2 separate regions of the Homo sapiens genome follow, and region 1 is reported to be linked to region 2. The links are microRNA targets in miRTarBase. Many come from high-throughput screens and were not tested one by one. Region 2 holds a microRNA gene; the other region holds the end of a gene's coding sequence.
The links. Region 2 holds the annotated microRNA hsa-miR-5088-3p (UCCCUUCUUCCUGGGCCCUCA, at 1,290-1,310, opposite strand). A microRNA usually pairs through its seed, bases 2 to 8, with sites in the 3' UTR of a target mRNA and lowers its output. Matches are read on the target gene's strand: a 7mer-m8 pairs with bases 2 to 8, a 7mer-A1 pairs with bases 2 to 7 and ends in A, and an 8mer does both.

Region 1 (4,382 bases), not on the chromosome of region 2:
ATTTGACCTCCCACTACCCAGAATGGGAGACGTGCCTCCCCTTCCCCACTCCTTCCCTCCCAAGCCCCTCCCTCTGGCCTTCTGTTCTTGATCTCTTAGGGATCCTATAGGGAGGCCATTTCCTGTCCTGGAATTAGTTTTTCTAAAATGTGAATAAACTTGTTTTATAAAAAGCAGGCTTGGCTGTGTCTTCCCTACCATGAGACTGTAAAACGCTCAGGGTGCATAGTAGGGAGGTGGTTGGGGATTGACAACCTATTCTGGATGACCCAGGCCTCTCTTCCCACCACAAACACCATCTGGCCTCCATGGGCCATGCCACCCACCCCAGGAGGGGACACCTGGGTTCCATCTGCAGCCTGAACTGTCGGGGCTGAGACAACTCCTGATTGGACTCCTACTTGGGGAGGGAAGCATAGAAAAGGAGGGTAGGTTCCAGCTGCCTGTGGTCACCCCCGCACCAGCTTCTCCCATGTTAAAGGGCATGGGCCTCCAGGGGCAGTGCCTTTTCTGAGCTTCCCAGACTTTCCCCAACTCTTCCCACGTCTCATTCTCCTGGTCAGGCTAGTCTTGGACCTGACTCCTCCCACTAGGCCCTGGGGCTGAAATTGTTGTTCCTTCTGACCCATAGCAGCAGAATAGAAGCCTCAGAACACAACTGATACTCAGGCTGGGACAACAGGCAGTCAGGGGAGGGCCTGTGTGTCCACAGAGCCATTGCACCCACATGTACTCGCTGTACCTGCATATACCCTCTACCCGCATATACCCACTACACCTGCATATACCCGCTTCACCTGCCTGTACCTACCCTGGGGTCTCCTCCCTCCCACCCTTCAGCTTCACCCCTCCTCCAGTGCCCCAGGAGTTTCATGAATTTTCTTGCCTAAGGATTCTCTGATCCTAAAATTCTTACCTGCACGGCACCTTAAGAGGCATCTGGCAGGCCTCCTTCAGTTGTTATTTAAACATTTATTGAGCATTACGAGTTTGCTGTCATTTTTACAGATGAGGAAACTGAGGCCCAGATATGCGATTTGCCCAGAGTCATAGAGCTAATTAGCAAGTGTCAGGAGTAGGACCTAGGTCTCCTGACTTGTTGCACTGTACAGTGGTGCCCTGAGTGGTGACAGTGGCGAGGAGAGGTGTGGCAGGGTCTCAGTGACTTCAGCAGGCAGGAGGGGCCTTTCCAGACTGAGTTTCTCTGCTTGTTCAGCTGCAATGGGTTGGCTCCTGTGTGAGTGCGTGTGTGTGGATACCAAGTAGCCCACCCGCTCTTGTCCAGACCCCCCTGTTTTACTGAAACCCAAATGAATCCCCATTCTCCATCCCAACATCTGTTCTTAGGGGACCAGTCAATGCCAGGCTTCAGGAATCTCATCTTTGATGACAGGGCCCCAGTGGCCCTGTGACCTGAGGCAAAGATATCCGTGTTTTGACTGAAAGGAAGGGACTGGGACTTGGGTCCTCTCTGAGTGAACCCCAGCTGTCTGGGCTGCTTCCATGGCCCCCTTTCTTGCTTCCAGAGGACCCATAGGGCCCTGGCTATGCCCATAGGACCCTGGCTGTGCCCCATAGGACCCTATCTGCCCAGCCTGGAACAGAGAAGACTGGAGTGCTTTCCCCAGGGGGCTTATGAAAGGGCAGGAGTGGGATGTGGCCAGGGCCAAGGGAGGAGGTCCTTGCTGGGCCAGTGCTGCTGTGTGGGAGACAGGCGCTGTCCCAGGGCAGGCTCTCCTGGGCCTATGCTTTTCTCCAGGCCAGCTTCAGGTCCCTTCCACCCCTCTGCCTCTCTCAACTTGCAGTTGTTCTCCCTCACTATCCAGGAAGCTGCCGCTGGTGACTGGGATGTGATCAGGAAGCAGGTGGAGGTGGGGTGAGAATATGCGTCTTTGGGACCCCCTGGCCCAATTGGGCTGACAGCAGGCTGCAGACACATCCAGATGTTCTAACTCCTATCGCTTCTCTCCGATTTTCTCCCACATTCAATCTTGCCTCCAGTCCTACAAGGGGTTCTGTCCTTTGCCCCTAAAACTCTTCCTGCTCCACCTCCCCCCGACCTCCCCAGGAGCCCCCTCAAGTCCTTCTGATGGCTTCATCTCTCTGTCGGGCCTGCTCAGCTTCCAGACACCCCCTCCACTTGTCACTGCCCTGTTTCCATTGATGGTTGAGTTTCTGGGCCCAAAGTTAAACTCTTCAGCCTGGGCTTCGGGTCCCTTTCCCACACATAAAACCCCACCCTTCACATTTCTCTGTCTGCTCCTGTGAGGATCCTCAGCTTCTTCTCAGCTTCTCTTCATCTTCCTCTCAGCTACTCCTCAGTTTCTATGCCCCATGTCCTGAAACGACTTCCAAGTATTCACTTAGAGCACAGGTTCTCAAAGTGTGGTCCTCAGTCCAGCAACAGCAGCATGACCTGGGGACTTCTTAGGAATGCATGGTTTTGGTCCCCACCTCTTGGGTCAGAAACCCTTGGAGTGGAGCCCAAAAATCTGTGTTTTACCAAGCCCTCCAGGTGATTCCAACGCACACTGGAGATTTCTAACTCCTGACTTACATATTCCCTATGCCTTACACTGGCCCCAGCCTTCTGATCACCCACACTCCCCTACCCTCCACGGGACTGCACAGGTTGTCAGTTTGAATTATCCCTCGTTCAGTCACCACAGGTAGATTCCTCTGTTTTCCCAGGTGCCCCTTATTTTGAGGACAGGAACCAGGTTTTTGAATGTCCACTCCACATGGCACCCAATCAGTGATGTGAATGACTGTGCCCCAAGGACACACTGCTTTCCTAGGGGCTCCCTGTTTCCCAGCTCTAGTGAACCCACTTTCTAGATCTCTCTCCTGGCCCTTCCTCCCCAGAACCTCTCTCTCTCTCTTCCTGCCTGTGCCTGATACCTGTAAGATCTCACTCCACTGTAAGAAAATAGCTATCCCTGGTTTTCCTTTCCCAGGCCCCTCTCCAGGCCCCAGCTCAGGCACCTCCCCGCTCTGCCTGCTTCCCTGAACTTGCGGACTAAGGTCATTCACACCTTGCTGAGCCCCTTGCACGCCTTCATCCTGGTGAGGGTGGAGCTAGGAGGGCACCCTCCTCATGTGCCCATCTTGGTCCGGCTCCTTTCTCCTTCACTTCAGCTTGGCCTACCGTGTCATTAGACAGTTGTGCCATATGTGGGGAGGCTGGCAGAAGAGGTGACTGGGGACTGCAATCCATCCTATACTCTGCTCCCCAAGCCATGCACCCTGGTTTGGGGCTGTATCTGTCTGGAGGAAAAGGGTTCCTTTTTAAAATTTGCACAGGGGTGTTCTACAGGTTAGTGGCAGCCCTGAGTGGACCAGTTGTCTACTGGTCCATCTATGTATCTGTCAGCTGTCTTTATCTGCTACCATCTTCCCATCCAACCCCCAAAAGTCCATCATTCTGTCCATCCATCCACTCATGAACAAATGTGAAGGTCAAACACAGACTGGCATTTTCACCCGGCCCCACCCTCCATTTCCCTGAAATCAGGACCCCTCCCTTCCATACTGGTTTCTAGACTTGAGGTTCTGGGGGACGGGGACTTTCCAACTTTAGCACATTTCCAGGGGCTTTGCCTTCCTCCTCCTCCTCCTCCTCCACCACCTCCGATATGCAGTTCCCCATGTATCTGTGTCTGGCCCCCGGTCTGCCACAGGGGTCTGGAGGAAGCTGGTCACACCTTGGACTCACTCTCTGGGGGTGGCAGGCAGCCATTCTGCTCCTTGTCAGCCCCAGCTTCCCCACCCGCCCCCTCCCCCGCCCCCTCCTCCTCCACCTTCTCATCCAGCCGGCTGGGGATGGACCAGTAGAGATGGGCATCAAGGCGGGCGGCAGCCTCTGCCAGCTCTCGAGCACTGCACGAAGGTGTGGGCACCTCAAAAGTCTCGTGAAAGCTGGCATAGTCCACTTCGTAGAAGCCGTCCTCCAGAGTCAGCACTGACGTGAAGCGGTGGCCCCACAGCACCTCGTCTACCAGGTAGGAGCTCCGAGCTTGGCATGTCATTCCTGGGAGGAGGGGCACCGGTCAGGGGGAATCTCAGCTCCAGGCTTCCCTCTCCTCTTCTCATTCCACAACCCTACTCCCAGCACCCTCCCTTCTATTCCTTCCTAAGGGCTCCCACCTCCCTTTGGTCCAGTCCATTTCCCCCCCTCCCTAGCTCCTGTTCTTACCCAGCTCCCTCGTGTCTTCTCCATTTGCCCCAACTCCTCTTAATGTCCAGCTCTTTTTTCCCCTCCTGTCATTTGGTGATGCCAACCAAAAAAAGCTTAACCTTGAAACTAACCTTAGGGATCCTCTAGTCCAACTTCTCACTCCATACAGGGCTCCCCAAAGGAGCATTTCTAACAATGGGCATCT
Region 2 (4,371 bases):
ATCTCCTGACCTCACGATCCGCCCGCCTCGGCCTCCCAAAATGTTGGGATTACAGGCGTGAGCCACTGTGCCCGGCCGCGATTTTGTTTTTAACTGGGTGGTTTTGATATAATAAGTAACAGCATGATCACATTCTCAAAACAGCCTTTATCTATTAGATAAGACACAAGCAGACGCATTTACCGGGAAAATTACATCACAGTGGGAATTTGCTTCAAATGGACTCGTGCGTTCATTATAATAATCTCTTTTTAAAAATCACTTCAGGATGGCACGGTGGCTCACGCCTGTAATCTCAGCACTTTGGGAGGCCAAAGTGGATGGATCACCTGAGGTCAGGAGTTCAAGACCAGCCTGGCCAACATGGTGAAACCATGTCTCAACTAAAAAAATACAAAAAAAAAAAAAGTTCACACCTGTAATCCCAGCACTTTGGGAGGCCAAGGCAAGCAGGCAGATCACGAGGTCAGGAGATCGAGACCATCCTGGCTAACACGGTGAAACCCCGTCTCTACTAAAAAAACAAAAAAATTAGCCGGGCGTGGTGGCTGGCGCCTGTAATCCCAGCTAATTGGGAGGCTGAGGCAGGAGAATCACTTGAACCCAGGAGGCGGAGCTTGCAGTGAGCTGAGATCGTGCCACTGCCCTCCAGCCTGGCAAAAGAGTGAGACTCCATCTCAAAAAAAAAAAAAAAAAAAAAAAAATGCTGGGGATGTACCTATGATGGTGGTCATGCAAAAGAGCGGATGCCGCAACATCCTGGAAAGTGTTAAACGACATGACAAGCAGGTGTAAGAAGCCAAGGGCAAGAGGCTGGTATGAAATGCTACTGGCGTGAAAATTATGCACGAGAATGTAAATGCATTTACGTATGTATGTGTTTGTAGGTCCAGACTTCTCTGGAAGTTAGTGTTGGTTAAACTCAGAGGAGGGCAGCTGGGAAACAGGGAAGGCTTCTCACTGTGGGCCTTCCGTGGCCAACCACGTGACTCTATTACTCATTCAAGAAACTAGAGAGTGCTTCTTGCCCTAATTTTAAGACTGCGGTGCTAAGCCTGTGATTTTGACACTCAGATTCTCAGGCGGCCGGCAGCCCAAAAGACCATGGGTTGGGAGCTGCTGAATCTGTGGTCATCTGTAGACCCCACTGCTCTTCAGAGGGCCCTGGGGAAGCAGGGCATCACCCCCTCCACTCCCACAAACCCATCCTCTTTCTGGGCTCACCGTGGTCTAACTTGTTGGCTTTGACGATCTTCACCGCATAATCAGAGATACTGGAACACTCGATCTGAGGGCCCAGGAAGAAGGGAGGGTGAGACCCATCCCCTGCCCCCATCACCTCCATCCAATCCCTGAGCCCTGATGGGCTCCCCTCCATCCCTCAGGCCCGGCCCCGCCTGGCCACCCTGGAGACTCACCCCGATGACCTTGCGGGCCCCGGCCTTGGCAGCAAACATGCAGAGGATGCCGGTGCCCGAGCCGACGTCCAGCACCACCTTGTCCTTGAAGAGGTGCCGGTTATGAAACATGGAGTTGCGGTAAGTGAGGGTGCGCACCTCGTCCTTCAGCATCTCCTAGGGCAAGAATGGCACAGAGACGCCGTGAGGGGCCCCATATCCCCAGCTGGAGAACAGCGTGTCCTGAGAGCTCGGAGGGCCAGAGCTCGGCCCTCTCGCTTTCTTCCATGCACCTCAGTTTCCCTTTTATATTTATTCATTTATTTATTTTTATTTTATTTTATTTTTTGAGATGGAATCTCACTCTGTTGCCCAGGCTGGAGTGCAATGGTGCAATCTCAGCTCACTGCAACCTCCGCCTCCTGGGTTCAAGTGATTCTCCTGCCTCAGCCTCCCAAGTAGCTGAGATTATAGGTGCACACCACCATGCCCGGCTAATTTTTGTATTTTTCATACAGATGGGGTTTCACCATATTGCCCAGGTTGGTCTTCAACTCCTGACCTCAGGTGATCCACCCACCTCAGCCCCCTAAAGTGCTGGGATTACAGGCGTGAACCACTGCGCCCAGCCAGTTTCCCTTTTTAAAAAATCAGATTAGATGGTCTAAACTCCAATCTTGGCCGGACTTCACCACTGCTACCTAAGAACCAGTGAACCCTGGCTTTTAAAAGTCCTCAGGCTGGGAGCGGTGGCTCACGCCTGTAATCCCAGCACCTCAGGAGGCCAAAGCCGGAGGATCACTTGATCCCAAGAGTTTGAGACCAGCCTGGGCAACAAGGCAAGATTATCTCTACAGAAAAATAAGAACATCAGCTGGGCGTGGTGGCGCGCGCCTGTGGTCCCAGCTACTCCGAAAGTGGAAGTGGGGGGATCACCTGAGCCGGGGAGGTCGAGGCTGCAGTGAGCCATGATTGCACCAATGCACTCTAGCCTGGGCGACAGAGCGAGACCGTCTCTAAAAATAAAAAATGGCAATTTTATGCATATTTTGCCACAATTTTATGAAAAAGGCCTCAGGGGGAAAAGAAAATTCCTTAGAATGCCACCCCAGCTTCGTTCTGGGATTTCAGTGTCTTCAGTCAGATCTGAAGTGTGCAGAAGCTGTTAGGGCGGGAGCAGCCGGGGCGCAGTCCCACCGCCGGTCACTAGAGGGCGGCAGAGACCAGTGGGCCCTGCCCGACCTCTGGCTAAGGCCCCAGGCACGCATGCGCTCTCCCACCCCAGCCTTCGGCGCGAGGCCCCTGCAGAGATTCAGGCTAACCTCGGTCTCCAAGGCAACGGCTTGGCGAGGCGACCCTAGGAAGTGCGCAGCAGAGGGGCAGGGGGGCGGCCTGCGGCCAGGGGAAGCAGTGCGCATGCGTGGGAAAACAGGTTCCACCCCTTCCCCAACATTTAAGCCCCCCTAAGATTGGGGCCTTGGGGACTGTCCCCACTGACCTCGTGGATGCCAAAGTGTGCGTAGGAGTCAAAGTAGTAATCTTTGGATGTCATGTCCTCAGCGTTGGGCTTCTCACTGCTTTCCGCCTGGCCACAGGACACCTGGGAGGGGGCCGATGGGATCATGGGTCAGATCTGGGGGCTCCCCACAGCCTCTTAAACCTCCAGCGCCCTACTTTTCCCTGAAGAGTAGTATAGAACCCCCAAAATCATACCATGACAACCCTACAGCCCCCGCCTGCCATCTTGCCCCCCCAGGAACCCCAAAACCTAACAACCCCATTTTCCACTTCCAGGACCCCCCCAGAGCACCATCCAGGGGAGCACCCCGATACCTCAGCCACGCCTACCATCTCTCCAGTCTCTCTGACCCCGTCTCTAGCTCAGCCCACAGCTGGGGAGGGGAGGGGAAGGAAAATGGGGGCAGACACAGGGAAGGGCAAAGGGGGGTTGGAGGTGGAGTTAAGGAAGTAGCGGCGATACTGGGGGAGGCCAGCGGGGGCTGTGAACCTGGAGGGGTTGCTACTAAGTGTCTGGGGGCCTGGGGTAAACTGGTTTGAAGCAAGAGGGGTATGGTTAGACCTCAAGAAAGGGCCAGATGTGTGGCAAGATATATTGATGTGGAGGTCAGGGTGGGGAGGGGTCTCACAAAAGGATATTTACTTCTTCAAGAGGCGGCTGGAGGCTCATCCCATTAGCCAAGGTGGCTACAAAATTCTAGGAGAGAGTAACAGGGAAAAAGGATTAGCTACTGGGAGTGGCTGTGGGAGGGCTGGGTGGCGGAACCTGGGCTCTGGCCGGGGGGTGGGTTTCCAGCAATTCTCCTTCTTGGTGGGGAGTGGTGGCGAAGGGGGCAAGTAATGAGGTGGGGTGTTTAAGAAAGGGTGGGAAAAGTGAGGGGAGAAGAAAGGGGGGTCTCCTATCCCAGCTGTGGCTGGAGAGATGGTGGCCCACCCCCACGCTGCCCCTCTCTGGCCAGGCAGCTGACCACACACCTCCCCCATCCAGGCCAGGGGAATTGGCACCCACCACCGCCAGCTGTCGCTCCCTCTCATCACCTAATCTCCTCCAGATTAGGTGACACTTCCTGACACACACACCCCTATCCTAGGGTGCCATGAATAGCAGAAGGGAGCGGGGCTGGCAGGATATGCCCACAGGGCATCTGCCACCTCTGCAAACCAGTCTCATGTCTGAGAGGATTCCAGAATAGAGGTGTGGCACACGGGTACTTCCCCAGAGCTAGTACCCCAGACCCCAGCTCCTGCCTTGGACTCAGGAGCCCCAAACAAAACCAGCTGGAACCAACCCCCTCCCTTATGACCCTCTGCCCACGAAGGTAGGGTCCCAGGGAAGATGGGCAGCTCCTGGACCCTCTAAGAATGAGAGGACTCCAGAAAGTGGCTTGGGGGCACGGTGGCTCACACCTGCAATCCCGGCACTTTGGGAGGCCGAGGCAGGTGGGTCACCTGAGGT

Region 1: the mRNA of KCNJ9 is a reported target of hsa-miR-5088-3p. Seed matches in the 3' UTR shown: 7mer-A1 at 3,521-3,527 and 7mer-A1 at 1,772-1,778.

What each region holds. Positions count from the first base shown.
Region 1 is chr1:160,087,134-160,091,515 of GRCh38, reverse strand. KCNJ9 (potassium inwardly rectifying channel subfamily J member 9) reads right to left here. Exons shown (of 3, transcript NM_004983.3): 3 at 953-4,030. The coding sequence ends at 3,699. IGSF8 (immunoglobulin superfamily member 8) reads left to right here. Exons shown (of 7, transcript NM_052868.6): 7 at 1-173. Among named protein-coding and RNA genes, the nearest start is that of KCNJ9, 7.8 kb to the right of the region's middle.
Region 2 is chr19:49,679,113-49,683,483 of GRCh38, reverse strand. It overlaps MIR5088 (microRNA 5088), which reads right to left and starts at 1,367; the gene lies at 1,289-1,367. It overlaps PRMT1 (protein arginine methyltransferase 1), which reads right to left. Exons shown (of 11, transcript NM_001536.6): 2 at 3,559-3,612; 3 at 2,896-2,997; 4 at 1,419-1,574; 5 at 1,225-1,288. RefSeq lists silencers at 2,558-2,722, 2,569-2,938.